Linked DNA regions of Homo sapiens. The protein of the gene in region 2 purifies or fractionates together with the protein of the main gene of each other region. This does not show direct contact. Each region holds a gene or a part of one and is shown on either strand. Other genes may lie near its edges. The genes, in order: UBE2O and REEP3.

What was found.
Region 1: the proteins of REEP3 (region 2) and UBE2O purify together in Homo sapiens (co-immunoprecipitation; 2 studies listed by BioGRID and IntAct, with this or other methods). This does not show direct contact.

The regions. Positions count from the first base shown.
Region 1 is NC_000017.11:76,437,728-76,453,440, reverse strand, and holds the start of UBE2O ((E3-independent) E2 ubiquitin-conjugating enzyme), read left to right. Parts: upstream 1-288; 5' UTR 289-299; coding exon 300-716; intron 717-15,713. UniProt on the Homo sapiens protein: E2/E3 hybrid ubiquitin-protein ligase that displays both E2 and E3 ligase activities and mediates monoubiquitination of target proteins. Negatively regulates TRAF6-mediated NF-kappa-B activation independently of its E2 activity.
Region 2 is NC_000010.11:63,519,732-63,535,444, reverse strand, and holds the start of REEP3 (receptor expression-enhancing protein 3), read right to left. Parts: upstream 14,045-15,713; 5' UTR 13,900-14,044; coding exon 13,868-13,899; intron 13,708-13,867; exon of another isoform or gene 13,555-13,707; intron 1-13,554. UniProt on the Homo sapiens protein: Microtubule-binding protein required to ensure proper cell division and nuclear envelope reassembly by sequestering the endoplasmic reticulum away from chromosomes during mitosis.

The DNA.
Region 1 (15,713 bases), on a different chromosome or scaffold from region 2:
CCACTCCACTTCCTCCTCCCGGGTCCCCGCCCCTTCTCGCTCCCTTTAGTTGAATCCTCACTGGTCTCGCCCCTTCTTAGTGGATTCCATCCTGCCCCCGCCCCCCGCGGCATCTTCAGCGTCCCCTAGCGACGAGGCGGTGGCTCCTAGCAACTGCATCCCGGCTCCCTGACGACGGCGCCACGCAGGGACACGTCAGCGCGCTATGGCCCCGCCCCCGGCGCCCGCTGGTCCCGCCTCCCCGCGCCTCGTTCGCCGCCGCTGTCGCCGCCGCCGCCCGAGACTCGCGCAGAGCAGTTATGGCGGATCCCGCAGCCCCCACGCCCGCAGCTCCCGCTCCAGCCCAGGCCCCGGCTCCAGCCCCGGAGGCAGTCCCGGCCCCAGCCGCAGCCCCCGTCCCGGCGCCGGCGCCCGCCTCGGACTCGGCCTCCGGGCCGTCCTCGGACTCCGGCCCAGAAGCCGGCTCGCAGCGCCTGCTGTTTTCTCACGACCTGGTGTCGGGCCGTTACCGTGGCTCCGTGCACTTCGGGCTGGTGCGCCTCATCCACGGCGAGGACTCGGACTCGGAGGGCGAGGAGGAGGGCCGCGGGAGCTCGGGGTGCTCCGAGGCCGGGGGCGCGGGCCACGAGGAGGGCCGGGCCAGCCCCCTGCGCCGCGGCTACGTGCGCGTCCAGTGGTACCCGGAGGGCGTCAAGCAGCATGTGAAGGAGACCAAGGTGCGGCGGGCGGGGGCTGGGCGGCGCGGGCGGCAGGGGGTCGGCGGCCGGGCCGAGGCCAGGGAAGGACGGCGTGCAGGGCCCTGCCCGGAGCGGTGCCACTGCAGTGGCCGACGCGGGAGGACAGCCCCAGTGGAGGGTACACTCCATGCAAAGTCATTGCAGCAGCTCTGGGCGCACACGCCAGCCAGGCACTGCTGGCCCGGGACCGGGCGGGCCCTGGGCTTCCCGACTTGAGGGGACTTCTAAGACATGTTATGCTGTGGTGTCGGCCTCGAGATTTAGAGACGTGGACCGACTCCCGTGGGGACTCAGGTTCTGGGGCGCGTTCGGCGTTACACCAGTGCGGCGTTTTGCTGACCCCCAAGGAGCTCGGTACTGCATTGTGCATCCAGAAATGAAGGCCGTGCCGGGTCCGTGCAGGGAGGGGTTGTGGGCATTCCAAAACAAAGATAGAGGTGAAAATCCCAGCCGAACCCAAGAAGTTCACTAGCTTACAGGCTGCATTATGGTGAAGCCACCCAGCCTCTTTTTGTTTTACCCTGCTGCCTCCTTTTAATTGCTGCAGGGAACTTTGTGAGTAAAATCATTAGCAATCAGAGCCCCGGTATGAATAGTACTTGGGGGGGAGGATTCTGACAGCTGCGACCGGGATTGATGACTCCTAAGTGCATATGGACTCCTTGAAAAAAATAATCCAGAACCCTGGGTAGAGGGGAGTCACCAATTTGGAAACCCGAAGGTTTTTTCTTGACCTGAAGCTGTTAAGCAGACATCTGACTCCCGTATGGTTTTTGGGGTGATGCTAGTGAGTATAGCAGTTTTACAAAACAAAGAGGCTTGTCATCATAAACCCGAAACCTTGAACCCGGGTTGGTTTGGTGGCTTGTTTTCCAGAATGTGAATTCCTATCAGTAATTGACACACACACACACACACACACACCCCCCTGTATCTCACACCCCTTCTTTCTCTCCTACTTCCCCTCCCCTTCAAGAAAACATTTCTAAGCAGGAATCAGGCCTACGCTGTTTTAGGTCCTTGGGAGGTTGAGAGGTCTGATTTCAGGGGAGGGCACTTTGGAAGTTGATCTGGGTTTCTCACACAGTGGGAGACAAAGACTACAGAGGAACGGGGTTTCATGTCAAACTACAAAGCGGGGTCTGTGACAACGGCTTGAGAAGGAAAAAGGCCCCACTCCAGAGAAGAGCACATGATCCATTTCCTAGAGGCAGAAGTGACTGCTGATACCAGCGGGGTCTTTTTGTTGGGGATGCACATACATCCACAGACACAAATCCACACACAGGACCCTGCTTCCCCTCAGAGAAATGTGAATCAGGCAACAGCTCTGAGACTTGGAAGGAAAATTATCAGTCCATTTACAAGAGTATTTGGAAAATATTACTTTTGTGCAACAGAATGCTTGTTAAAAATTACCCAGTATTGTGTCAGTAAAAGAGGGTTATTGCTGTATACTGTGTGACACCAGATGATTGCTGGTGTCTTTCTGTGAGTTTTTAAGAATGTTTTTCACCACCCATCTATTTGAGAGATTCGTGATTTTTGGAACGCAACTCATTTGACTGCAGCATCCTCTGTGTTGTGGCCTCCTGCCCTAGGACTCAGGGAGGTAGGCCCAGCTCACTACTGGGAGCCGCTATGTTTATCAGTTGTTGTTCCCGTCCGTCTTGACTTTGGTGGTTAACTTTGTTTGCAGTTATGCTCCGTTTGCCTCCTGCACTATGTGTAATTATACAGAGTTTGACTTGAAATACCTATTTTGGAGTTAAATCGAAAACAACGGCCGGGTGTGGTAGCTCATGCCTGTAATCCCAGCACTTGGGAGGCCGAGGCGGGCGGATCACCTGAGGTCAGGAGTTCGAGACCAGCCTGACCAACATGGAGAAACCCTGTCTCTACTAAAAATACAAAATTAGCTGGGCTTGGTGGCGCATGCCTGTAACCTGAGCTACTCGGGAGGCTGAGGCGGGAGAATTGCTTGAACCAGGGAGGCGGAGGTTGCGGTGAGCTGAGATGGCACCATTGCACTCCAACCTGGGCAGCAAGAGTTAAACTCTGTCTCAAAAGAAAAGAAAAAAAAAACAACAACTTTGAGGCACCACTTTGGATAGATTTTGCAGCTGGCCTCCTGTGACTTGCTTTGAATTTGTTGAAATCCGTTTTGTGGCTCGGTGGTGGTATTTTGTCATTGTAGCATCTGGGTTTAGCAAAAGCCAAGGGACGCAGAAATTCCAAGGAAGTGGTGGAATGGGATGCCCATTTATGGGTGGCAAGATATAGTTCTTTTAGGATTTAGAATAGGTTTGTTTTGGAGGGTGGAGTTTATACCTGATAGGTAGCTCTGTTACCATGAGCTATAGATACAGGTGACTGATTAGCTGAATGTCTCCTGGTCTGTTACTGACCACCAAGCAGGGTGGTAGGGTGGGTCCTGGGACCTTGCAGAACTGTGGCTTAGGATGATTTTTCTTCTCACCTCCTGCTCCTTATGAATTCCATCAAGGTGATAGTATGCCGTAAAGGAAAGACCATTAGACCAAGATTGACTAATCTAGTTATGAGATTTGAGAACCCAATTATTGACAAAATAATGTAGTGGCAGATTTTTTTTTTTTTTTGAGTTACTGGTTTGTTTATTATTTTTGGGATGGGGTCTCACTGTTACTCAGGTGTCCTTGAATTCCTGGTCTCACACAATCCTCCTGCCTCAGCCTCCCAGGTAGCTGGGACTACAGTAGTGATGGTTTTGAGAAACTTATTTTTTATTTATTTATGTTTTTGAGACGGAGTTTTGCTCTTGTTGCCCAGGCTGGAGTGCAATGGCGCCAGCTCGGCTCACCGCAACCTCTGCCTCCCGGGTTCAAGCGATTCTCCTACCTCAGCCTCCCGAGTAGCTGGGATTACAGGCATACGCCATCACGCCCGGCTAATTTTTTGTATTTTTAGTGGAGACGGGGTTTCTCCGTGGTGGCCAGGCTGTTCTTGAACTCCTGACCTCAGGTGATCCGCCCGCCTCGGCCTCCCAAAGTGCTGGGATTACAGGCAGGAGCCACCGCACCCGCCCGAAACTTATTTTTTTTAATAAGCTGCTACCTATTGAAAATTTTTGTGTGTGAGTTTCTTTTTTAAACAGAGTCTCTCTCTGTCACCCAGGCTGGAGTGCAGTGGCACGATCTCAGCTCATTACAACCTCAACTTCCCGGGTTCAAGTGATTCTTGTGCCTCAGCCTCCCGCATAGCTGGGATTATGGGCATGCGCCATCACACCCAGCTAATTTTTGTATTTTTAGTAGAGACGGCAGTTTGCCATTTTGGCCAGGCTGGTCTTGAACTTCTGGCCTCAAGTGATTCACCGGCCTTGGCCTCCCCAAGTGCTGGAATTACAGGCATAAGCCACAGTGCCTTGCCCCATTGAAATTTTTTAGTAGTATCTATTTAATGTGGAGTGTTTCATAGGGTGTGGCGTATTTTTGTAGTTTTCTCTGTAAATTGGAGGGCAATGAGTAAAGGCTTAATCTTAGTCTCAAGTTTTTAGTGAACAAATTTACAAAGAGAGATGAAGAGACTGGGCAGCAAGTCATGTCCTTTCCCTGCTGCCTTCATGAAAATAGCAACAGAAACAAAGTAAGTTCTTCCATGAAGCTATGGAATTTGTCGTGTTCCTGAGGCTTCCAGCCACCAAAATTAAGCCTCTTAAGGACTCAAAAGGAGCTAGTGGCCAGTGTCTCTTATATGCTTCTTCCTTTCTCCAGTCTTCTGACCTGTTCAGCGAGGTAGCCACTTGAAACTGTCCATCTGGCCATGGATCTCCTTAGAGGAGGCTTGCCCCTTCCCCATCACCAGTCATCCTTTGAATAAAATTTTGTAACAAAGCCAAATGCCAGCAGCCACTTAAACCTTCATGAGCACTGGCTAGACGTGGTGGGTCCTTCTGGTCTCCACCTGTCATGGTTGGGCAGAACAGCCCCCTGCGAGGTAAGGGAGCAGGACTGCTGTCTGTCAGTTCAAGTTCAGCCTTCGTTTCGGAGGCAAAGCGTTTATGCTTTAGCTTTCTTGTGCTTTTTCATCTCTTTTGCATTGTCTTTTGTTTTAAGTTGCCATGACATTCAGGGTTTCACCAGGTTTGAGATATAGTGCCTCTAAATTAGGGCTGTCTGTGATCACCCTGCTTTTATGAAGCTGTGTGTGTGAAACATCCCTGATGACAGGTCCCTCGGGAATTGGCTTTGCAGTTTATTTTTGGCTCCTACGCTGGCCAGCATTTCCATGGGGAAAGCTATTTAGGTGTAGCATCATGGCACGTGAAGTTTGTCTCACTTGTCTGGGTGCTGGGCCCATTAAAAGCAATTGTTCTTAGTGATGTAATGTGAAGAAGTTATATAAGGTTAACCAAGATGCAGGACTAAGTGAATCTAAATTGCGTTTTATTCAGATAGGATCACAGCACTTGTAGACTCTTAACAGCTGTTCTGTGATTTTATTCTTTGTCCCTTGATTTTTCCCCTTCTAGCCCTCGGGCCTCAGTGCCCTGATGGTGCTTCTGTCTGGCTGCTGCCTGACTCAAGGGTACTTTCCCCAGATGAAGGGTGTGTGTTTTGTACTGTGATTGGAAGCCAAAACCCTTGGGTGCTCTTCCTGGCTGTCACCTACTCTGAATGACCTTGACCAAGTCACTGCCTCATTTTCTCCCTCTGCAATGAAATAAGAGGTCTATCTTCCTAACCCCGATATGATCCTGCTCGGATGGAATAACCAGAAGTGTAGCTGGGTCAAGCCTAGGATGGCCACTTGGTTATTAGCAGACAGCATTCTGATGTCTGTCAGAGAGAGCCAGCCCTGTGCCTTCAGAAGATCACTTCCATGAGAAAGAGGGTGATGCTGCACCAAAGAGGCACCTTGGGAAGCAAAAGGTGCACGAGGCGGGTTGTGGGGAAGGTGGTTGTTTCAGGGGCATAGGAATTCCTAATGGCTCGTGTTGCTAGTGACCAGATGGATTATAGGTTTGACTTTATTAAACCTCTTCTAGAAATACTCATGAACTTCCTACCTCTGTTACTTTGTGAGAAATTCAGTAATGCACATTTAAAGTAACCCCGGCCGTCCTCCAGGAGGGGGATGGAATGAATCTGTATGTATGTATGTATGTTTCCAGAGTCTGAAAGGTCTCTTGAAATTCTCAAGACTGGTAATGAGATTATAAATTACAAAGATGATAGAGTATTGCTTTATATTTTAAGGTAATAAGAGCAGTCATGATCCAGGATACTGTTACTGTGTGCCAGGCACTCTTAGTGCTTTAGATGTTTTACTTCACGCTCACAACAACCCTGTGGTGCTATTATTAGCCCCATATTCCAGAGAAGGAAGCTGAGGAACAGAGAGGTTAAGTAAATTGCCCAGTGTCACACTTCTAAGTGGAGGAATCTGAATACAAATTGAACTAAATGTACTTTGTTCTCACCTGAGAATACTTAAGTTCAGGATTCAGAGATCATTACTATACGTGACCGAGTGCCCTGATCCAACATGAATCACAAGCCTTGTGGTTGGCATTAATCATCCCTTCTTTAAACAGTTGAAAGTCTTAGTGTAATAGGAGGTACTACAAGTGAGGAAGGAGAGAGGCACAGGATGTTGGGATAGGTGGAAGTTGTGCCAGTGGGCAGGCAGGAGGGAGGGAGATGATGGGTAGGGAGCAGGACGGGAGGAACACTGCATTCGCACTGGCGGTGTGCTTCTGCAGATTCCACTCTTTTCATTCCCTGACCCCTCAGTCATTCTCAAAATAACTGTCAAAAACACATTGCATTTCTAGAGAACCTTTGACTGCCCCTCAATGTTGAATGAAGCAACCTCTGTAGTCTGATTCATTCCAACACTGAACTGCAGTTCAGTTTTATTCCCCAACTCCACCTCCTAGAGCAAAACAAGTGTGCAGACACTCCACGTAACTGGCATTTCTGTGTTGCCTCAGAAGTGGTCAGCTCCATTAGGAGCTCCAACTTGACCTCCTGTCCGCTCTGCTGCTGTCATCCTTCGGCTGGGAATGCTGAGTCATGAGACAGGTTCAGGAAGGATTCCTTGGAGAGGCTGAGTTCCACCTCAATTTCAGTTTCTGTTCCCTTCAGTTTCCGTGTGTTTTTGCTTTAGGACATTAGAGGCCTCTTTGCACCTTCCCCATCTCTACTTCACTTTTATCCCTGTTTCTCTCTGTTTTGTTTGTTTGGTTTTTTTTTTTGTTTGTTTTTGTTTTTTCATTTTCCTGTTATACTAAGAGGAACTTTTTCTATTTTTTACTACTTAACCCACCATGGGGGCTCATGGAATCCAGTGGAACCTGTTGGGGGCCAGCACTTTTTAAAAGGGTGCAATTGTCGTGTATAACATGAATTGCCAGCACAACAGTCCTGGGCACGTGATCAGTGTCAGCTGCCGCTGGTGGTCGGTCCCCTCAGAGTTGGAGTCAGGGTGGTTTTCTGTGACATGTGGGTTTTCACCCAGGAGGATATGATCTGTGCTCCTATTCTGATGGAAGCTTTTGGAATTTCCTTGCCCAAGGCTTAGCCTGCTTCTGGATGGCGATGGGGAGTTGCTGATTTAAAATGACAATCAAAAGGGGCAAGTTACAATCAGGAACGTCTATAATGTGCTTTCCAGTTTACAAGAGGCTATCACTTTTCTCACTTAATAGGATCTCGGTATTTTTAACTGTAGCTCCTTCCTGAGGCTCCACTTGCCCATGAATGGGTGCCAGTCCTGGAGAAGGTCATGGTCTAAATGCTGCCCATCCACATTTGCAGCTCTTACTGAGCAAGAGTGCCCGTTCGGAATTGCTTCATCTTCTGACATTCCAGCCAGCCACGGGGGGACTCTGTCAGGAGCCACTTGATGTGTGCAGTTATAGCCAGGGAAGAGCAAAATGCTTATTGGAATTTGCTGTAGTTGAGAATAAAATTGAATTGTGTTACTGGATAACTCTCTGGATTTATCTACTCCAAGTTATTTGCCTTTGTTTCATTCGTTAGCTATACTCTGTGATTGAGGATTTAATGTCCTTCAATCCAGGCTGACTGTATTGGATGGATCCTTGGGTCAGCTTTGTCCAGGTCACCCCTAGACACAGGTAGGCTGTGTTCTCCTGAAGCAGTATTGTGAAAAGCACATTTTTATGGTTTAAACATTGCAGTCAGTTGACATACCACTCAGAAGTATTCAGTGGGCAATAAGGATTGGAATGAATGTCCTTTTTGGGTTTAATCTGGTTCTTTGGTTGGGGGATTTTGAGTTGGTTTGCATTTTTAGAGAGGCCACAGCAATATTTAATATTCTGCAGCTAAGTCAAAGGAGTAAGACATTTTTCAGGTCACTTTTGGTTTAAATTGATAGCATAACTATACCTGGGAAACAGTCTGACTATGATAATTGAAAGTAAAAAAAAAAATTAAAACACTGAGTCATGCTTGGAAAAAGAAAAAAAAAAAGGCAGTCAGTCCTACCCAACAATGACATGAATATTCCCAGCTAGCACTGACAGAGAGATTTCCTGCAGGCACCCTTAAAAAGAGAGGCCTTCATTTGCATCCTGCAAGAGAGCTGGTCTTTTCACACTCAGCAGCTCCGATGATGTTCTTCCTCCTCCTTTTAATTCTGGTCCTTTTTGTGGGAGCTCCCTCTGGAAGAGGGCAGTTGAAGATAGATACCTTGACCGGCAGATTCAGCGGACTGTGTGTGTGGTCACCGGACTGTGTGTGTGGTCACCGCTAGTGCAGGTGGGAAGTGTAGACACACAAATACGTCTCCAGGGATTCTGGGAGCCTCAGGGCTTGACATATGCAGTGCTGAAAGCATCCCGGTATTCATGTGCTCTGACTGTTTTATTATTTAAGGGATTCTGAGGGCCCTGAAGGTTGATGACATCATCTTCAAGCCAAGGAAGAAAGCATTTCTCTGGTCCCCCAGTGTGCTTTTGGGTCATCCCAGCACTGTACTGGGGGAAATGGATGTCTGCCTCCATTTCCTCATGACCTGCTCTCGCCTTCAGTCATTTTCTGTCTAACCTCTCACACCACTGAGTGTGACGGCTCCCCTGAAGGTCACAAATGACTAGTGAATTTCTGATCACTGCATTTGCTGACATTTTCTCAGTCCTTGTCCTCATTTTGATCCATCAGCCTTATGCTCTGTCACCCAGGCTGGAATGCAGTGGCGTGATCACACCTTACTGCAGCCTCCGCCTCCTGGGCTCAAGCAGTGCTCCCACCTCAGCCTCCTGTGCAGCTGGAACTACACACTCGGCTTTTTAAAATATTTTTGTAGAAACAGGGTCTCACCATGGTATTGGCCAGGCTGGTCTCGAACTCCTGACCCCAAGTGATCCTCCCACTTCAGCTTCCCAAAGTGTTGGGATTACAGACGTGAGCCACGGTGCCTAGCTGACCACACCCTCTTTGTTTTGTTTTGTTTTGTTTTGCTTTGTTTGTGAGATGGAGTCTCAGTCTGTCGCCCAGGCTGGAGTGCAGTGGTGCAACCTTGGCTCACTGCAACCTCTGCCTTCTGGGTTCTAGCGATTCTCCTGCCTCAGCCTCCCAAGTAGCTGGGATTACAGGCTCCCGCCACCACGTCCGAGTAATATTTGTCTTTTTAGCAGAGACGGGGTTTCACCATATTGGTCAGGCTGGTCTCGAACTCTTGACCTCAGGTGATCCATCCGCCTCAGCTTCCCAAAGTGCTGGGATTACAGGCATGAGCTACCGCGCCTGGCCGACCATGCCCTCTTAACGGTATTTCCTTCCTTGGGGTTCTATTATACCAGACTATACCAAATGTTTCTCTTTTTTGCCTTTTGTCTTCTTCCTCTTACCCATAGATGTGCAGCTTTTCCAAAGACCTCTCTTTTCTTTATCTCTTCCTCCCCAGTTTTTTGGAGTGACCTCCCTGCTTGTAGCTGCATCTGGTACCTGTATTTAGGTGACTTCCACAGTGACATCACATGCCCAGCTGCTTACTTGATAGCTCCATTGTGCCATGTAGACTTTGTGGGTATAAAATCTTGTGATTGTGACTGCCCTTCCCATCCCCAAGTCTGTGGACTTAAAAAAAAAAAAAATGTTCTGACTGGGCACAGTGGCTCACGCCTGTAATCCCAGCATTTTGGGAGGCCGAGGTGGGTGGATCACTTGAGGTCAGGAGTTCGAGACCAGCCTGGCCAACATGGTGAAACCCCATCTCTACTAAAAATGCAAAAATTAGCCATGCGTGGTGGTGGGTGCCTGTGATCCCAGCTACTCGGGAGGCTAGGGCAGGAGAATTGCTTGAACCCAGGAGGCAGAGGTTGCAGTGAGCCGAGATCGTGCCCCGGCACTCCAGCCTGGGCGACAGAGTGAGACTCTTTCTCGAGGAAAAAAATATATATATATATTCCCCAACTTTTTTTGTTTTTGGTTCTGAACCCAAGACCCAACTTTTTAATAGGAAAAAATATTGACCATACCAAAATGTTGAAAGCCAGTAATTGCTAACCCCCAACCATTATGAGTCAGCAGTTGTTAACATCCTGCCATATTTGCCTTATCTGTATGCTTATGTAAATATATTTCCTCCTGAATTATGTCTGGTACTAACTCCTGCTAAGTTAGTGGCAGACATGATAGCACTTCACCCCTAAATACCTAAGCTTGAATCTTCTCAAAATTAGAGCATTTGGGGTCATTTTTAATTTACCTTCTTTGGCCCTCATTCTAACTTGTCATCAGTTCTTTGAGAGGCCTCTTGCATCCTGTGCCTGCATTTCCCTTTCACAACCCTGGTTTGCTCTCTGCTTGCCTCATGCCTGCACTGTGTAGCCTTCTCCCTGGTCTCCCTGCCTCTAGTCCTCCTTCAACCAGTGAACAGCGCTGCCGCCAACTGACCTCCAAAGGGCTGACCTCCCAAGTGATCGCCTGGATTGTGTCAGGACCCAGCCTCTGATCATGCCTTGGTTGTCATTCAGGGCCCCTCACCTACACATCCTGCTCTATCTCCTGCCTCTTCAGTTGATTCCAGCCAATCTGACTGCTTTTCCCCAACTCAATTGTGCCGTTCCCTTCCTCTCATGCCCCATGGCACACCCACATTCTCTCCTGGATGGGAAGCTCCTTGAGAAACAGAGACAGCAAATCCTAAAGCTTGTGTGCTATCACGCACATGCAGACTCTTGGGAAACATCTTCATGAATGACCAGTTTGCTCCCTCCCACTTACTACAAATAGTATTCTTAGTCTTCTTCCAGATGCCCTGTGGTCTGTGCTGGAGCTGTATGGGCCCCTTACTAGACCACTCTGTCTCCCACCCCCCGTACTAGGTGTGTTGACCATGTACAGTAATTTATTGCCCAAGTTGGGTTCTTTTGAGAGTACTATGAATAATTACTCCAGGACTGGGACGTATGGGCATCCTAATACTAGGAAGAGCAGATTAATCAGAATACACCATATTGTAGTTACTACTTTGGCAACTTCCGTCGCGGGCTCCCCAGGCAGACTACGTGCATTGTGGACTAGGCTAGAGCTAGCTAGAGCTGGTGTCACCTGTGGTCGAAATGAAGCTGCTTCTGGCTGCATTTCCCCTGTAAGAACCCCGCCTAAAGCACTTGACAAATGGCAGATTCCACACACGTGGGTTTCCTGAATGGTTATCAGCACCCAGTCCTCACCTTAGGAGGATGGCTAAGTACGAACGAGGCTCTCTATTGGAAAAAGAATGCCCCACCCGACTGCAAATGAATCAGGAACGCAGCTTAGGCTATGCACTCTGCCTGCACCAAGACCCTTGGGGGCGGGGCCTGGAGTTGCAGTGGCTATGCCAGGCCTATTACTTTGAAGGAGTCAGGAACCATCTATTGAAAGTAGATATAACCACCCCTGTTTATCAGTGGAGGGGGAGGGGGAAGTGAAGAGAGCATGAATAAATGGATTCTAATCCAGCACTTTTCCAAGGTGAATGCCACATGCCATCACCTAGGGTCTCCTAATGCAAATTGTCCTAATTCCATTGGGCTGAAGAATCTGCGTGTCTAACAAACTCCCAGTGACATTGATGCTGCTGGCTGGGACTGTCTTTTGAATTGCACTTATATGGGCCCTTCCAAACCTCGTTGATGTCAATGGGTTCAGTTTTAGTACGTCTTTGGTTCGAGGCTTTTTCTCTCCCCTCTGCTTATTCTTCTAGTGCCAGTGTTAATGAACCGGGAATTGTCCAAAGGTGGGCTGCAGGAGGGGCAGGAAAGGGATGAGGCGGACTCATCATCCGCCAGTGCTTTAGTGTTAGAAAGGCTTGCCTCTTTCTTCCTCCCCATTGCTTGCTGGTGGTTATTATTAATGCACTGCTGTTGCTAAGAAGTTTCATTTGATTTCATTTCATTTTAGGATGTAAATATGGTAGTTGTTTTGAGTATAACACACCCAATCCAAGAGGAGAATGATTATTCAGCATTTTAATGAAATTGCTGTCTTTTATCCAGCCAGTGTCAATGGATTCCTGCTGTGAGCCAGGCATGTTAACTCACACTTTACCTGTGTCATCTCACTTCCCTTAAAGTGGCCAGTGCCCCATTTTAGAAAAGGAAAGACTGAAACCCAGAGAAAGCTTATAACTCACCAAGGCCACATAGCAAGTGGGAGGCCAACCCAAATTCAAACTTAGGCCAGTTTGTGCTGCCCGAATGCAGGTTCTCTTCACTGACTACACGGGTGCCCCCTGCACTGTGCTGGGTGCTGTGGGGAGAGAGATACCCCCACACAGGCCCTGCCCTCTAGATAAGGGGCCAGCCAAACTTTCTGTAAAGGGCCAGATGATAAATGTCCTAGTGTTGCAGGCTATACTGTCTCCTTCACAACAACTCAGCTTTGCCATTATAGCACAAAAGCATTCAGAGGCAGTAAGCAAATGAATGGGCATGGTCATGTTCCAATAAAATTTTAAGAAACAGGCAGTAGGCTGGACATGACCTGCAGGCTGTAGTTTTCCCACCTCTGCTCTGGAAGGATCCTGAAAAATAGAGATACAATGTGAGCCACAGCTGAAAAAAGTAAATAGAGGCCAGGCATGGTGGCTCATGGCTATAATCCCAACACTTTGGGAGGCCAAGCCAGGCGGATCACTTGAGGCCAGGAGTTCGAGACCAGCCTGGGCAACATGATGAAACCCCATCTCTTCAAAAAGTACAGAAATCATCTTAGCGTGGCAGCTTACGCCTGTAGTCCCAACTACTCAGTAGGCTGAGGTGAGAGGATCGCTTGAGTCCTGGCGGTCGAGGTGGCAATGGGCCGTGATCGTGCGACCCATTGCCCTTAAGCCTAGGCAACAGAGCAAGACCCTGTCTCAAAGTAAAAAAAACAAAGAGATGAAATTAATTTTAATATATTTTACTTAACCCAATGTATTCAAAATATTATATCAACATATAACTCATATGATAAGTACTAATGAGAGACTGTGCGTTCTTTTTACCATAGTGGCTACTGGATTGGGTAGCACTGCTTCAGAGACTTAGATAGGAGAGAGAACCATCGCTGTGATCTCCTACTCAGCTTTTTTCCCTCATAGCACCTGGCATTACCTGAGATTATACTACTTCATGTCCTGTTTACTGTCCCCAGCCGGAAGGTAAGAGAAGCACAGAAGCATCTCTGTCACTGCTATATCCTCAGTGACTGGCCCAAAGTAGGTGCTAGGAGAGATTTGTTTAGTGAGCACTTGGGAAATGGCAGATTGCACACATGCGAATGAGTGGAATTAGTGGGTGAATGACTGATGCACATAAGGGAGCGAGAGCCTAGTTCCACCTGCAGGACACAGTTGAGATGCTGAAGGATGTGGTGGGGAGCATTAGGAGATGCTGTCATGGAGGTGCCTTTTGAGTTCACTCTTGAAAGATAAGAGCTTGGAATAGCAGCAGTGGAGGGCAGGGCGTCCTGGGCGGGAAGTCCAGTGCGCATAAAGGCAAGAGAGGCAGGAAGTTCATTTCAGTGGTTTCAGACTTAGGCCTCAGAACTCCTTTAACTTAAAAATTATTGAGGACCACAATAATTTTTTAGCTTTGTGAGCTTTTATTTGTATGGGTTGTTTCTATTAACATCTACCATTTAAGAAAACAAACTTAAAAACCAAGAATGCCTGGGCATACATTCTATTGGCCATCAGAGCAGTGACGTCATCACACATCATGTAGCCTCTGGAAAATTCCACTGCAGACTTTGGAGAGGATGAGAGGAAAAAAGGCAAATAACGTCTTGGTCTTGTTATAGAAAATTTTTGACTTTGGACCTCCTGAAAGGGTTTCAGGGATCCCTGGGCCATATTTTGAGGACCACTGAGCTAGAGGTGGGGTGGAAGAAGTCAGGTGAGAGAGTGCTGGCAGGCGAGGCTGCACAGGACTGTAAATAACGATAACAACAAAGGTTTGTTGGCACCTGCCGCGTTCTAGGCACAGTCACTGGAGAACCCCGTGAAGTAGGTGTTCTTACTTCACAGAGGAGGAGAGGTTAAGGCAGTGAGCAGAAAGGCTTGGGCTAAAGCCAGGCAAGCGCCTCCAAACCACGCCGTCAGCTGCCCCTGGAAAGGCCACTGGTGTCATGCTTGCTGTGTGTGTGCAGGTCTTTGGATGACTGACTCAGGAGTTGGGATTTGTTTTTTACATAAAGAGGACTTACATCAGAGTTTACAATGGGTGATTTGGCGGCAGTTTACAAGGTGGAATGTGGGGAGCTAGGAAGCCTGGAGGCCAGTTAGGAGGATTTTATGGGGCAGATGAGTTGTGTCCTCTGTGCCCTCGGTGTGCATGGCGTCACCTATGCATGCATGGCGTGGAGTGCTAGAGGTGCTGACTTCTCACACAAAATGACCCGGAAGTGTGAACAAACATCTTCATTCCGTATTCAGTGGAAGAAGCAGTGATCTGTTCCAGTGCAAGAGGAAACACTGGTTATGTTGGTCTTACTGATGGATTTAAGGGATTTTTCAAGGATAATTTTAATGATGTTCAATTTGACTTAGTACCTAACCCCCCAGTAAAATCTGAAATCTATCGAACCTAAGAGAACAGTAATAAAGCTTTCAATTATTAGAGTAGTGAGGTAGAGAGAAAGGTGAGGTGGTTGGAGAAGGTTTCTCAGATGGGGCGCAAAGGTGTGAAGGACGTTTGAGGAATAACAGGTAAAGCATGTGTTTCACAGCCTTGCACGTACAGCTGAGCCGGGGTGTAGTGGGGGAGGTGGGAGACAGAGCAGGAGTAGGGACATTAGTGTGCCAGGGCTTTGAGGTGATCAGAAGAGCGACGAGGAGCCTTTAAGTTTTTCTTTTTTAATTGTAGTAAAATATGCATAACAAAATTTACCATTTTAACCATTTTTAAATAAACAGTTCAGTGCCATTAAGTACATTCCCATTGTTGTGCAACCATCCCCACCATCCACCCCCAGAACTTTTCATCATTCCCCACTGAAACTCTGTCTCAATTAAATAATAACTCCTCAAACCATTAAGTTTTATAGCTTTTAGAAAAACCTTTTCTAAAAGCAGTGGATGTAGACATGTGGTCACCTACCAAAAGGCAGTAAGAAGAGGGAAGCGTGGCAGAGACTCAAGCTTCTCATGAGCATGGCCAGGTGGCTGGTCCTGCCGGTAATAGCAGTGTGGACAGAGGAGTGGGGAGGGAGATTCCGTTTTGAACACATTGCAAATTAGATGCCTGGAGGCATCCAGGCAACGAGAGACACCTCCCTTCGAAGCGTGTATTTAGCCTGTCCCCCATCTTCCTTTAATTCTTATTGCTGTCCTATTTCATAACCTCATAATTGCAGTTTCTAAACAAACATTTTTTAGATTTATAGAACAGTTTCAAAGATCATACAGAAAGTCCTCGTATCCCCTTCACCCAGTTTTCCCTAATGTTCACATCTTACATATCATGATATATATTTGTCGAAAGTAAAAAAA
Region 2 (15,713 bases):
CATTAAATTTATAGACTTTTTAGGAGATGAACTGATAATCATTAATTAATATTGACCCATTAACATAAACTATACATTTATTCAGATATCCTTTTATCTTTCAATCATGTTTTATACTTTATAGTTCTTTTCCTTCCAGTATTTTAGTCTGTCTTTTAACAGGAAGATAAAATTTGTTGATATTTATTGTTATTATTGATATATTTGAACCCATTTCTACCATCTTTTTTTCCCCTTATGTCTCTCTCACCTACTTGACCCCTTTATTTTGGCCTTCTGTATCTCTTTAGCCTCCTTTCCTCTCTTCTGTTAGTTTTGAAACAATAGATTATATTTCTAATCTTTAAAAATTATTATTTCTCTTCACATGACAGAGACCATACCATTCTCTTCCTACTTTTATTGAGAATGAAGGAAAAAGAAAAACCCAGAGATAAAGGTGAGGAAAGAATAAAAGAGAAGCCAAGTGACAGTGATGGCATACTTTGCAGTGGGAGAGCATAATTTTAGACCTCAAAGGAAAAACTGACTGCTTTCCTTTCTCATACAGTTCCTGCCCTCATCATACACTTAAAAAGTGTGTCTAGGCAGTGTCACTTGTAGGGTTATAGGTCATTTCATTTTCAGTATTTCCTTTATATTTATCAGTCATTCAGGAACTCAAGGTCTCTATTGTAACCATTACTTTTAAAATGGCTTACTATCCTATATTTTTCTGATCCTAGTTTTAGGTGAGCTATTTTAGTTAAAGCACTGTAAGACTTTGTCACCAGCAAAAATCTGAGGCAATTGGGTACAGATTTACACAGAGACAATACATCTGTATCTTAAACTTATAGGAAACCAATTGAAACAAGGCAGTATTTGCATCCTATTTACCACATAAAATATTCAAAACTGGTTGTAGTGGCTCACGCCTGTAATTCCATCACTTTGGGAGACCAAGGAAGGAGGATCACTTGAGGCCAGAAGTTTAAGAACAGTCTGGGCAACATAACAAGGCCCTATCTCTACAAAATATAAAAAATTAGCTGGATGTGGTGGTGTGTGCTTATAGTTCTAGCTACTTAGGAGGTGGAAGCAGGAAGATCGCTGGAGCCCAGGGATTTGAGGTTACAGTGAACTATGACTGTGCCACTGCACTCTAGCCTGAGCAACAGAGGGAGACCCTGTCTCTAAAAAACAAAAAAAAAATAAAAAATAATAATACTTCAAGATATAACATCTAGAAATTCTTAAGAATTATTTCATCATAATAAGCATAATCTTTGTGGACAAAAAAGTTTATTTCCAATTTAAATTTCTCATTTTTACTTAGCAAGGAAAGATCAGGTTTTTTTTAGAATATCTCTACACAGAACTTTCTGACTATTTTTCTCATATAACTTTATTTCACACCTTAATATTTTCAGGTTCTTTAAGATTTACATACTTCCAGGGCAAGCGCGGTGGGTCATGTCTGCAATCCCAGCACTTTGAGAGGCCGAGGTGGGCAGATCACCTGAGGTCAGGACTTTGAGACCAGCCCGGCCAACATGGTGAAACCTTGTCTCTACCAATAATACCAAAAATTAGCTGGCATGGTGGTGGGCGCCTGTAACCCCATCTACCTGGGAGGCTGAGGTAGGAGAATTGCTTGAACCCGGGAGGCGGAGCTTGCAGTGAGCTGAGATCGCGCCACTGCACTCCAGCCTGGGAGACAGAGCGAGACTCCGTCTCAAAAAAAAAAAAAAAGATTTACATACTTCCAAGGCTCTTTCATGTGGACTTATATAGGTATATCTTTAAAGAGTACTTTCATTCACTCACGATCCATTAAACATCCTAAAACCATTATCATTTCTATTTACAAAATTAACTTAGGTATACAAAGTTAAAACAGAAAGTCCCTATATTTCAGAAAACCAGAAAAAAACTACGGTTGATGAAAATTAATAACCAAAAATATAATGCAAATAAAAAGGACTGAATGAACAACTTGGAAGTGTGTTCAGCAATAGTGAGATTGATCAGCTTCCTAAGCAGAAAATAAAGACCACAGCCACAAACCAGTGAAGAACTGATCATGACAATAACGGTATCCATTAGGCAAATATCACCAAATATTCTATTTTATTTCCATATCTGCACTTTCTTCATGTCAACACTCAAGAACGACTAGGCTTGTTGTTCCTGTGGGCCTCTCCAAGAGTCAGTTTGCCCACTTCACAGTTTTGGTGAAAGTGCATTCCACATTTTCTATCTGATCCTCCACAGGAAGCATACAAGCAGTATAGTTTAAGATCTTCAACTAGGGTTCTACCCTGCCTTTATGCCTCTAGTGATGGTATACACACTGCACTCATGATGTTGGCAGTTTCAAAGTTGAACAATTTTAGACGTTATAAAGTTTTCCTCAATATATGGAATAAAACTGGCTTCCTTATAAGACCTACCTTTAACCTTGGATTCACAATAACAGAAAAATCTGTCCCCCTTCCCCATGTGATGACTCTAAGACAGTTAGTTTGTTCGACATTTTTTCTCCTCTTCTTTTTTATGAGACAGGGTCTCGCTCTGTCGCCCAGGCTGGAGTACAGTGGCACGATCCTAGCTCACTGCAGCCTTTACCTCCTGGGCTCAAGGGATCCTTCCACCTCAGCCTTCTGAGTACTGAGTAGCTGGGACTGCAGGCGCATGCCATCATGCCCGGCTAATTTTTGTACTTTTTGTAGAGACAGGGTTTCACCATGTTGCCCAGGCTGGTGTGGAACTCCTGAATTTTTTTTTCTCCTTTTCTTTTTTTTTTTTTGACGGAGTCTCGCTCTATCGCCCAGGCTGGAGTGCAGTGGCGCGATCTTGGCTCACTGCGAGCTCCGCCTCCTGGGTTCACGCCATTCTGCCTCCCTTCGAGTAGCTGGGATTACAGGCGCCCGCCAACACGCCCGGATAATTTTTTGTATTTTTAGTAGAGACAGGGTTTCACCGTGTTAGCCAGGGTGGTCTTGATCTCCTGGCCTCATGATCCACCCACCTCGGCCTCCCAAAGTGCTGGGATTACAGCACTTTATTTCTTTATTTATAGGTGAGAATAATTCTTTCCTAAAATGAACACATCATTACTTGAAAGTGTTAATGCTCTCGGTATTAATATATCTGAATATTTCCTAAGATTATGTTTTGAATTATTGGTTAGCATAAACCTATTTTGTTTAGATTTGTCCTATGACTTTTACTTTTATGATTTCCTTGATAGTTTTGATTCTGCAGAGTCAATGACACTGTTAATAGTTAGGAAAAGCAACATAGTGATAACCTTCAGCTCTGTATTCTAATCCTAATGTCTTAATCAATTCTAAGACCAGGAAAAACTATAACTTGTAAGTCATACTTCATTTACAGGCTAAAAAATATGGATTATAACACCTGATGTGCAGAATACGTGAGTATAAAAATATTTGCAAAGTGTACTATATCAGTATTTTTCATCAATTTTTAGAAATTCTCTGTAAACATAGGAATTTTGAAATAATAAAGATTGTGACAGATTGATCAGCAACAGTAATTTCTTTTCTACAAGTAGCAACAGTATTTTTATATAGAATATTCTTAAGCCAGAGCTATCCTAAGATACTTGTGAATTTCCAAATATCATTATAGAATTTCTCTCATAAAATACATAGAAGCAGCAAATAGAAAATAGCACAGCCATTTTCAGGTGGAGATGCTGAGCGGACTATATCTCGTAAAGGATCACTTCAACAGAACTCTGCGATGATAAAAATGTTCTATTTTTATGCTGCCCAGTAAGGTAGCACAGAATAAGATAAGCATTCACATAGCTACTGAGCACTTGAAATGTGGCTAGTGTATTGAGAAATTTAATTTTTAATTAATTTACATTTAAATAGCCACACATAACCATATGAGATAGCACAGTTTTTAGCCTCATGCCCTCTCCATATATATTTTTCTTCCCTTTTTACTTAACACAGTGGTTCCCAACCAGTGGCAGTTTTGCCCACTAGGTGACATATGTCAATTCCATATCTGGAGCCATTTTTGGCTGTCACAACTGGTGGATGCTGCTAAACATCCCACAATGCACAGGAGAGTCTCCCACAACAGAGAATTATCCACTTAAAAATATGAATAATGCTGAGGTTAAGAAACTGTGATATATTAAAACATCTTCAAATGAAATGAAAAGTACTTTGAAAATAATTATGAATGGCTATATAACATTCTAACGTTAGCTGGTCTGCTCATTACATAAAATAATCTCTAACCACTGTTGGATAATTCCATCCTGATTGCTACTGTTTTCCCTGTTCACAGTGTTTTAGTGAGTATGCCATCTCGCCTGATTTTCAGTCATAGTGGCCTCTGTAAATATAACAACATGAACGAAACTGGTAAATTTACTTCAGTAATAGGGGTAAGTATGCATAAACCCTTAACAGTTAGTTTTGTAAACATGAACAATTTTATAACAAAAATTTTTATCTTTAACCTCTCATTTACCTCAAAAGTTGTATGAAAGGATTAGTTTAGTGCAAATGTGTAATCAATGACATAAAAATAAGTTCATGTTGTTATGAATCAACAGTAACCTTTTTCCATGAAATGATCAAAACAATAACATCTTTTAAGATATTTAAAATACCCATTTATGCCACTATTGTTGTAATGTACCATTTATTTGAACAGTTTCATCTATACTTAAAGTACATAATATAAAAATCTCCATCCTAAAAGGGTTTAAAATATAGTGGAAAAAGAAATAGCTAACAGAGCAACAGTAACAAAAAATGGACAAAAGCAAATTGTTTTTGAAATGCAGGCTAATAAAGGAATCTTGTTGGAAGTTCTAGCCCATGCAGTGAAAACAAGACCCAATAGTTTAGAATGTGTTTTCTTTCTTAATGAAAGAAGACAGAAAAGATGACCTCTTACAGGGCATTTCCTACATATATTTTTAAAATGTCAACCTTTTAATTTTCTTGAAAACATCATTGTTCCTATTTACCTGATTTCTCATTGTCTAATAGCAATGTATCTTATTCTTAGATACAACTCATGAACATGTAAGCTATTCACAATGGATCTCATAAAAAATGGTAAATAAAGACAAAATCTACCTTAACCTAATTGAAAGAAAATATTTTAGCTATCATTGAGATTTTACAACCAGTTAAAAAATTTAAAGCACATATAAAGGAAGAAAAATATCACTCATATAATTGTGACTGCCTTCAAACTTCCATAAGGATTTAAAAATGAGGATTTTTTCATTAATCCTATCATAAACTTAACAAACATATACCCTAACAAATGGTACATTCTCTTGCTATATTATAGCAAAGATGAATATAAAAATGACATTCATCAGGGCGCAGTGGCTCATGCTAGTAATCCCAGCACTTGAGGAGGCCAAGGCAGGTGGATCACCTGAGGTCAGGAGTTGAAGACCAGCCTGGCCAACATGGTGAAACGCTGTCTCTACTAAAAATACAGAAATTAGCAGGGCATGGTGGTGGCCACCTGTAATCCCAGCTACTCGGGAGGCTGAGGTAGGAGAATTGCTTGAACCCAGGAGGTGGAGGTTGCATTGAGCCGAGATTGCGCCATTGCACTCCAGCCTGGGCAACAAGAGCAAAACTCCTCAGTCTCAAAAAAAAAAAAAGAATCACATTCATGGCCGGGGCAGTGGCTCACAGCTGTAATCCCAGCACTTTGGGAGGCCAAGGTGGTAGGAATGCTTGAGGCCAGGAGTTGGAGACCAGCCTGGGCAATATGGCAAGACCCTCATCTCTACAAAAGTAAAATAAAAAAATTAGCTGGGTGTGGTAGTGCATGCCTCTAGTCCTGGCTACCTGGGAGGCTGAGGTAGGAGGATTGCTTGAGCTCAGGAGTTTGAGGCTCCAGTGAACCAGGATCATGTCACTGCACTGTACTCCAGCCTGGATGACAGAGTGAAACCCTGTCTCTAAAATAAATAAATAAATAAAATAAATAAAAGAATGACATTCACTTCCAGTCATATTATTCTGTTTTCTTTCCTATATTTGTTAAGGTATCCAATCCTACTTCCCTATCTATCTCCAGAACAATTTTAGCTAGGTTACCAAGGTTTAAAGAGATTGTTTTTAGTAACAGTACAAATGCAGAGCCTTTTCTCTTTTCCCTATCTGGAATAAGTGTGTCTGGAAAGAGGCTCATTAGTGAAAAAAACTTTATTCAATGCTGAGATCCTTTCAGTCTCTCTTTCCAAATAATTCATTCACTGCAGCTTTCATGAGAAAAATTAATTGTGAAATAAGCTCTGGAGGAGGGAAAAAAAGGCAGTCCCCAAATTCATGAGGCATAATATTTACTATCAATAGTTCTGTGATTTATAGTTCACATTCATTTTTTTCATTCTCTTACTGCGGAAAATATTTATTGAGCTTCTTTTGTGTGCAATGAACATATTAGAGAAAAGACTTCTCTCATGGAGACTATTTTCTAGTTGGAGAGGACAGATGATAGGTTAAAGAAGTGAAGTACCAAATACTACAGACAACGGAGCGGGGAAGGAAAGCAGGAGTGCTGGGGTCACTGAGAAAGTGAACACCTGAAGGAAGCGAGGGAATGAGGCAGGAGGGTATCTGTGGGAAGTGCACTGAGGCAGGGGCCATCAAGTGCCCAGGCTCTCAGGTCTTACCTGGAGATCACAGATCTCCACTGTGTTGGAGATCACTGTGGCTGGAGTTATAATGGCAGCGGGCAGGTAGAGACAAAGGTTTGAGATGGAAAAAAGTCCAGATCATGTCCTGTTTGTAGACCATCATAAGGACCTGGCTTTCCTGAGTGAGGCAGGAAGTCATCTGAGGGTTGTGAGCAGACGAGTCACATGACTTGACTTGGGTTTCAACAGGACTATTTTGGCTGCTGTTGAGGAGGGACAAGGGCAGACACAGGACACTATGCCACTACAACACATTTCAGAGATGATGCTGGCTTGGACTAGAATGGTGTATGTAAAGGTGGTGAGTACAGGATGTATTTTGAAAGCAGAGTCAACAAGATTTGCGGATTCAATGTAGGGAACTAGAGAAAGAGAGGAATCAAGGATGGTATGATCCCAAGGTCTTTGGCCTGAGCTGCTAGTAGGTGGAGCTGGCATTAACAGAGTGGGGGAAAGCTGCCAGAGGAGCCAGATGGGGAAGGAAGCTCAAGAGCCTAGTTTTGGATGTCTTAAGTTCAGTCTGACTTTCAGATGTTTCCACGTGGAGCAAAGAACGCAGCTGAAAATATGATCACAGAGTTCAGCAGAGAGATCTGGGTTGGAGATGTAAATTAATGGGAATCCTTAAAGGACTACAAATAGAAAAGAGAAAATGGTCTAAGGACTGATCCCCATGACATGCCAACTTTAACAACTTTAAGAAGTCAAGGAACATGGAGAAATGTGCCAGGTAGGCTGAGAAGGGAGTGGCCGTTGAGTTACAAAAACAAAAAAAAAAAAAACAAAAAAAAGCAAGGTTTCTTGGAAACCAAGTGAAGAAAATACTTCAAGGAGAAAGTGAGCAATTGTATCAAAAGCTGCTGATAAGTCAGATGAGGATCAAACAGTTTGGCCAAGTGGCGGTCACTATTGATCTGAGAAGGGCAATTTCAGTGGAGTGGAAGGAGAGAAAAGTCTAAACAAACGTATGGGTTCCAGAGTACCCTGAAGGAAAGAAAGTGAAGATGGTGTATAGACTATCCTTTTTTTAAAAAAATTATTTTTCTTTTTTTTTTGAGACAAGGTCTCACTCTGTTGCCCAGGCTGGAGTGCAGTGGCATGCTCATGGCTCACTGCAGCCTCAACATCCCAGGCTCAAGTGATTCTCCCACTTCAGCATCCACAGTAGCCGGGATTACAGGCATGTACCACCACGCCCAGCTAATTTTTTTGTTTTTTGTATTTTTTGTAGAGATGGGGTTTCACCAGGTTGCCTGGATTGGTCTGGAACTCCTGAGCTGAGGTAATCTATACGCATCAGCCTCCCAAAGTGTTGGGATTACAAGCAAGAGCCACTGTGCCCGGCTTGGACTATTCTTCTGAGGAATTTTTGCTCTAAAGAGACAGAGGGAAATGGGGTGATAAGATGAAAAGTATAGTAGATTAAAAGAGTTTTTTTTTTTAAGATGGGAGAAGTAATAGCATGTTGGTATGCTGTCGAGAAAGATCTAGTAGAGAAGAAAAAAGAGATGAAGCTGAAAAGAAGGGGGAAAGCTGCTGAAGTATGGTTTTTAAGGTGTATAATTTAGCCTTTGAAGACATCCATTATAGCACCCAATATAAATGAAGAGAATCAGAGAAAAATAATTGCGGGTTTTAAGAGTACTGCCAGACAATTAAACTAAGGTAAAACAAAAATGTATTATCATTGTAAAAAAGGGAAATATCGATATATAGAATTGAAAAGGAAGTCTCCAAATTAATCCACTTCTACATAGGAAAGTAGTACTTATCAAATATCTGTAGTATCTAATTTTACATTTAGAAATGATCAAGAAATCACAAAATAAAAAACAAAGAAGGCGAACTATATTAAAACTATAAACTCTCTATGCAACCAAGAATAAAATATCTAAAAGAAAACTGAAATTAGATTGAGAAACACATTTGCATGAAATATCACATAAGGTTAATTCCTTTATTATGTAAAAAGCTCAGACAAAACAAGTAAATTATCAAGTAACCAAGAGATAAATGGGCAAAGTATATACATACTGTATGCATAATATATATAATTAATAAAAATCTGGACAAGCATTCAACTGTGCTGATAAATAAAATACAAAAGAAAACAATGAGATATGTTATATTTATTGGTAAAGTATTAAAAAATTAAAACTTCCGATTCTGGCTACATTGTGATAAAGAAAGTACTCACACATTGCTGCTAGCATGTAAAATATTAATATTCTTTTGGAAAGCAATCTGGCAATTCATATCAATGATCATAAAAATATTCAGTGTTTGACTCAGAAATATTCCTCTTGTATTTTTATCCCAAAGAAGTATGTACTTCAAAAGAAGTATATATAATGTCCATTATAGCATTATAATTGCATTTCAGCATTACTTATAATAATGAAATATTAAAAATTATCTAAATGTAAAATTAAATACAAATAGATGAATGGCTAAGAAAATAATACTGGCCTGATCAAACAGAAGATACTAAATAGGATTTCAGAGCAACATAGAAGATGCTTATAAGATTTCAGAGCAACATAGAAGATGCTTACAATATAATAAAGACTAGTATAACATTTTTACTATACTCTAATTAAAATTATGTTACCTACACACAAAGTGATTCAAACAAAAAATGTATATTGAAGATACTTCAAACATTCAGCATGCTGGGATTTTAGGAGAGCATGTTTTTCCTTTTTCTGATAACTACTACTAGCATTTACTGAATGCTTACTATGTGCCAGATGCTGGACTATGGACATTACATATAGTAATGTATTTAATCCCATGGGGTAGGTTATGACGCATAAATGGCAGAGTTAATAGTTGAATTTGGCAATCTGGCTTTTATCTTGATCTTAATCACAATGCTAGATCATAAAAACAAATTAAGAAAAGTTAGGGAAAAAAATGGAATTTCCCTCAACTTATGAGAGTCATGTTTCAAAAGGTGAGGTGTGGATATCATATATGAATGGAACATCATTGGTAATCTCAAACTACTATCCCTTAAAAATTGGTAACTATTCATGCCTGTAATCCCAGCACTTTGGGAGGCTGAGGTGGGAGGATCACCTGAGGTCAGGAGTTCAAGTCCAGCCTGGCCAACGTGGTGAAACCCCGTCTCTACTAAAAATACAAAAATTAGCTGGGCATGGTAGCACATGTCTGTAATCCCAGCCACTTGGGAGGCTGAGGCAGGAGAACTGCTTGAACCCGGGAGGCGGAAATTGCAGTAAGCCAAGATTGTGCCACTGCACTCTAGCCTGTACACCAAGAGAAAAACTCCGTCTCAAAAAAAAAAAAAGTAACTAATCTGTCAATCTTGCCTGTGATGTTAAAGTAAGCTGAGATTGAACAGACTGTAAGTAATGGAAAAATACTTTCATATCATCACAGAATGCTAAGGCTGGACAAAAGAGCTTGGCGGTTATCAGGTCCCTTTGCCTCTTCTAAGAAATAGAACCAAGGTCTATAATCAGCAAGAGACTGCCTCAGGGTCATTCAGCTGGTTAAGGTAACCAAAGCCAGTTCTGAATTCCAAGTTTCTTGGTAACAATCCAGTGATATTTCTTCCTACACCATTTTACTCACTTCCCTCATAAAAAAGCTATCTATATATCTATTACGTTTTAAGTGCACACTCAATGCCAAGCACCACACTTCCACGTTTTAGTTAAACTAATTTAATCTTTACAACAGTCTTTTTTTTTTTTTTGAGACAGAGTCTTGCTCTGTTGCCCAGGCTGGAGTGCAGTGGCACGATCTCAGCTCACTGCAACCTTTGCCTCCAGGGTTCAAGTGATTCTAGTGCCTCAGCTTCCCTAGTAGCCAGGACTACAGGTGTGCGCCATCACGCCCGGCTAATTTTCTTTACAACGGTTTCATGTGGTATTTATTATAATGACTTAAAGGCAAGAAGACTGAAGCTCAGAAGGGTTTAGCATGCTGCCCAAGACCACGCAGCTGTAAACAGTGGTATCCAGGGCCAGGTGCGGTGGCTCATGGCTGTAATTCTAGCACTTAGCGAGGAAGGTGGGCGGATCACTTGAGGCTAGGAGTTCAAGGCCAGCCTGGCCAATATGGTGAAACCCTGTCTCTACTAAAAATACAAAAAAATTAGCCGGGTGTGGTGGCGTGCACCTATAGTCCCAGCTACTTGGGAGGTTGAGTCATGAGACATGAGAATTGCTTGAATTGGGAGGTGGAGGTTGCAGTGAGTTGAGATCACACCACCGCACTCCAGCGTGGGCGACAGAGAGAGACTCTGTCTCAAAAAAGAAAAAAAAAAGAGTGGTGTCCAGGGCTAATTTCTCTGGTGTTAAAGTGCAGGATCTTGGGACAAAGTGCTTCTACATACAGGGTGCTTTGGTTATGGAGGTTCCCTGCCCATGCTACCAGAGGTTCATGTTGAGAGAAGGGTCTGATCTTGCTCAGGAGGAGGTGGTTGTCTCAGTGGGTTAGAAAGAATCAAGTAAATTCTACCTCCTGGTGTGAAAAAGGTTTCCAAGTTTGTGTAGATCCTGTGATTGCTCTTTCATGTTTAGAGAGAGAAACTGAGTAAAGAGGAAAAATAGAATGATGTTTATATTCTCTACAAGTGTGCTTTCTAATGTGCTAATGTGTTCACGGCTCACAAAATAACAGTTCCTGACACTTGAGAAATACATTTCTTTTCATGACATTTTCTTCCTCACATTATTGCTCCCTGTCGTTAGCCTCAAACCTTACATTCTGTAGCTCAAGTACTTTAACTGGAGAGAGGCTTTAATCCCCTCTCTCCAGTTAGGGAGCCTCCTAAGGAGTCTCCTTGTCTTCCAGGTCTCCATTGCCAATCATTTCACAGAAGGGCAGAGAATCTTCCAAAGCAAAGCTGTTGCTGCCTTATAACATTTACCCCTTCTTTCTTGAAAACAGGCCCCAGGCTACCTTTCCAGCTTGCTTTTTCCCCACCCGAGTCCCTCACGCCCACTGTAACTAATCTGGGCTTTTCCTCCTCTGGGCTTTGGCTCACGCCGGTCCCTATATCTGGAATCCTTTCCTTTTTCATCTTTGGCTGCCTAGATTCTGTCCATTCTTTTTTGTTTTTTTTCTGAGGCACAGTCTCACTCTGTGGCCCAGGCTGGAGTGCAGTGGCACGATCACGGCTCACTGCAGCCTTGACCTCCTGAATTTGAGCGATCCTCCTACCTCAGTCCCTGAGTAGCTGGGATTACAGGTGTGAGCTACTGTGACTAGCTAATTAAATTTTTCTTTTTTTGTGGAGACAAGGTCTCGCTATGTTGCCCAGGCTGGTCTCTAACTCTTGTGATCAAACAATCTTCCCTCCTTGGCCTCCCAAAGTGCTAGGATTACAGGTGTGAGCCACTCTACTGGGCCTATTCTTTAAGGCCCATCTGAAACGTAATCTCCCTTGCCTTTTCTGATTCTCCAACCAGATATCCCTTCCTTGTCCAACACTGGGTATTAGAGTGGGTGTAACTTTTACAAGAGTTGACATTTGGACCTGTACTGCAGATATCTGTGCACCCAAACTGTCAATTCCCATGATCAACTACGTGTTACTGACCTTTGTGTTATAGGTAGCACCTAGAACAGACATTCATATTCATTGGCAATTATGAAAAACAAAAGTCTAAAAGTGCTTCACAATTTTCTGTCAGCTGAAGAACTGGTCAAAGAAATCCAGAGGCTTTTTTTTTTTTTTTTGTAAAGTACAGCTTCTTAATAGGGCACTTGATTTTCTAGGTGTGGACACAACAGTTGATAGACATCTACTAGGTCAAGAAAGGTATGCCTGAATTAGATAAATGACAGACTCAAAAGAGAGGCCAGGAAAAGGCTGAAAAACAATCTGAAGGCATCTGTGGTATCCTTTTGTTTATATCTTGATTTTTAGTTTCGTACAGGGGAACACAGGAAGCTCTGAGGCTTTAAAACTAGAAACTTTGCGATTTAATCAAATGAAAAATTTTGAATGCTGTGCTGCAAATCTGATTAAATAGGGCTAGTAATTCACTTCCAAACAAAATAAACCCCAAACTCAGAAAATCTAGCTCCTTTTAACAAAAAGTCTGGTAATGTTATTTTTCCTAAATTCTAAAGCTTATCAGAGAAGCCTGCCCCCTCACATAAACATTTTTTCATATACCTTTATGAAACCTTCTGAGATAACACTACTACAGAGGTGAATAATGAATTCATAGGCCCTAGCTGTAACTACGTCATTGTTTACTTGGTGACTTTTTTTTTAATCGGGGAGAGGGGTAAAATGGAGATGAGAGAAAATCAGTTTAAACTGTATTCAAATACATTTACACGATTAACACCACCAACTCAAGGAATTTCTTTTTCTTACAGACCTGTAGCACTTGTTGGTAGGAGAACAATGAAATGAACCCATAATTTGAACAAAGGCAACAGGCACCTGCAGCCTTTCAATCACTTAGCAAATATTTCCGCCGAGACAGGGCCGAATTCGGGGATCTGGGCGAGCAGCCGGTGTCACCTTTCTCGGTAAGCTGCAAATCTTGGGAAAACTAGGACCCTTCCCAGGGATCCTGGGCTGGGAGCGGTCTCCGGTTTTTAGACAAATCTCTCCTCCTACCACACGTGACCGAATGGCAATCAGCCGCCAAGAGAGACACCGCAACGCATCAGCCGCGGGATACAAAGGCTCGGCACTGCCGTCGCATCCTCGGGAGGATCGCGGAGCCTCCCGCGCTCGGCGTCTGCGGAGCCTGCGCAGGGAGCAGCTGCGAGGCGCGCCGCTCCCGGGCCCGCAGGGCGGTGCCGCGCTGCGCGGGGAGCAGGAGCGGGGAGCGCGCGCCGCCTGCCCTGAGCGCCTGCCCACCCAGCGCCGCCGGAGCAGGGGCGCCGCGCCGCACCGCACGCAGCCGAGCAGCGCCACAGCCGCCGCCGCCGTCGCAGCCGCAGTCGCCGCAGCTAGGCCCTCGGCCGTCGCAGGGAGCTCCGCAGCGACGTGGACCAAGGTGAGGAAGCCGAGGGCTCCCCCAGACCCTCGGCAGGCCCGAGGCCGGGCTACCCCGTCCCCGCCCAGGCCCAGGCCTTCCCTTTCCTCTCGGCTCCTTCCCCTTCCCACAGCTCCCCTGGGCCTCGCGCCGGCTGCAGGGCGCAGTGAGAGGCACTTACACCACGGCTCTGGAGATCATCCAGGACACCATCTTCACGGGGGCTTGGGCCCCACGTCCGGGGCGGGTGGGCGCAGGGCGCTGCGGACCAGGCCGCCAACGGCAGGCCGCGCGCTTCGCCGGCTCCTCGCGCTCCCCGGGGCCGCGCTGGCGCCCTCAGGAGCCGGGCCCGGTGTGTGCGCGCGGCGGCCTGGGCTGCGCAGAGGTCGGTCCCCCGCCCGTCCCCGCCCGCCCCCGCCCGCCGGCCCGGCAGCCTAGTCCGGACAGCACCCCGCCCCTGCGCTCCGCTGATAGGCGGTGGCGGCGGCGCGTTGGCCCGGGCCAGGGCTGGGGCCAGGCGGCCGGGCTCCAGGGCTGGGCTGGCGGGATCCTAGCCCGCGCTGGACGGCCTCGCTGCCGCGGCCTTGGCCCCTGCGCTCTAACCAACCTTACCCTCCTTAGCTCTTTGGGACGCCCACACTCGCGGCGAGAGTGGGGCAGGAGGCTGAGGAAGGGTACTGGAGGGTAGGGATTGGCAGTGCCTGTGTGAAAAGTGAGATATTCGCAGGAACTCGGTGTCCAATAAAACTCTCGACCAGGCCCTGGTTTTGGAGAGCCAAGACTTTGAGGTGTGCCTGGCCACATCCGGTATCCTCAGTGTTTACGGAGGCCCAGCACCAAAGGCGTCCTTATATTACCACATTTTAAAGGAATCGTCGAGAGGTTCTTGCACAGGCCTCCGTGTGTGCCACGAGTCTCGTGGTGCAATGCAGGGAGGGACAGAGGAGGATTTCATGTTTGCAGTAGTGGGTGCAGTGATACCACTGTTCTGGGCCTCTTAGGGCACCTTTTCATCAGAGCATCTGCAAAGACTGTTTACAGACACGAATCTCCATTATTTCCCTGAGGCCTGCCAGATGTTCAAAGTAAAGGCTGGGTCTAGGATTCCTGACCTGTCTTAAGATTTACAACTATATTACAGCTGTAAGATTTACAACTGTATTTTTTGGAGGTTGGGTTACTGCTTACACCTTGCTGTTCTTGCAAATATCATTTCAAGGGCAGACTTTTAAAACTGTTTTTTTTTTTTTTTTGTGACAGTACCAAATTGAGAAAATGATGTTAAAGTTTAGATATTTTTATTTTTTCCAGTTAAGACGATAGTAAAAGATAATTCTAGTATTCAGATGGTGCGAAGAATAAAAGATGAAATGTAGGCTTGGAGCCTTTAATTAAAGTCCTAGAAAATATGATGGCTTTTGTGACCATACTGTAATTTTGTCTTCTTGTTCCTCAGTTTCCCTGTGATAAAAAGGGGGTAATAATACTGTAGTCTGTCTCTTGCCTTTCAAGGGTGATATGAGGCACTGCTAAATAATATGTTTAGGAAATACTCTGACTTGCATGGAAGACAATCAAAGGACACAACAGATTATCCTAAATTATTTTCAGTTCTCAGTCAATAAATTGGGTAATATTTCATTATTTAAGAAACAAGCTCAGAAGCTACTTTCTACTCTTGGGTTAGGTTCTTTTCGCTTATTAATTCATGTCAAGACTTTTTATTTCAGGAATTTGAGTAATAATTTGCATTTAACTCTGAATCTTTTATTTTTGGCCATTATTCAGCATTATTTGAGGATCAGGTGTGCTGCATAAGCACCAGTTTTTTGGCGAACTCTCTTGTTCAATAAAACTCAAATGAATTTGAATATCATTCAGATCCCTTCATGAAAGGTCCTGAAATAGCTTTACAGCCTTTACTTTTACTACTTTCACCCCCAACTCCTAATGTACCCGTTCCCTACCTCTCTTCTTTCAGCCAACCTGTATTTTCATGCTCAGTGCTTTTGCCCAGATTTCGTTTT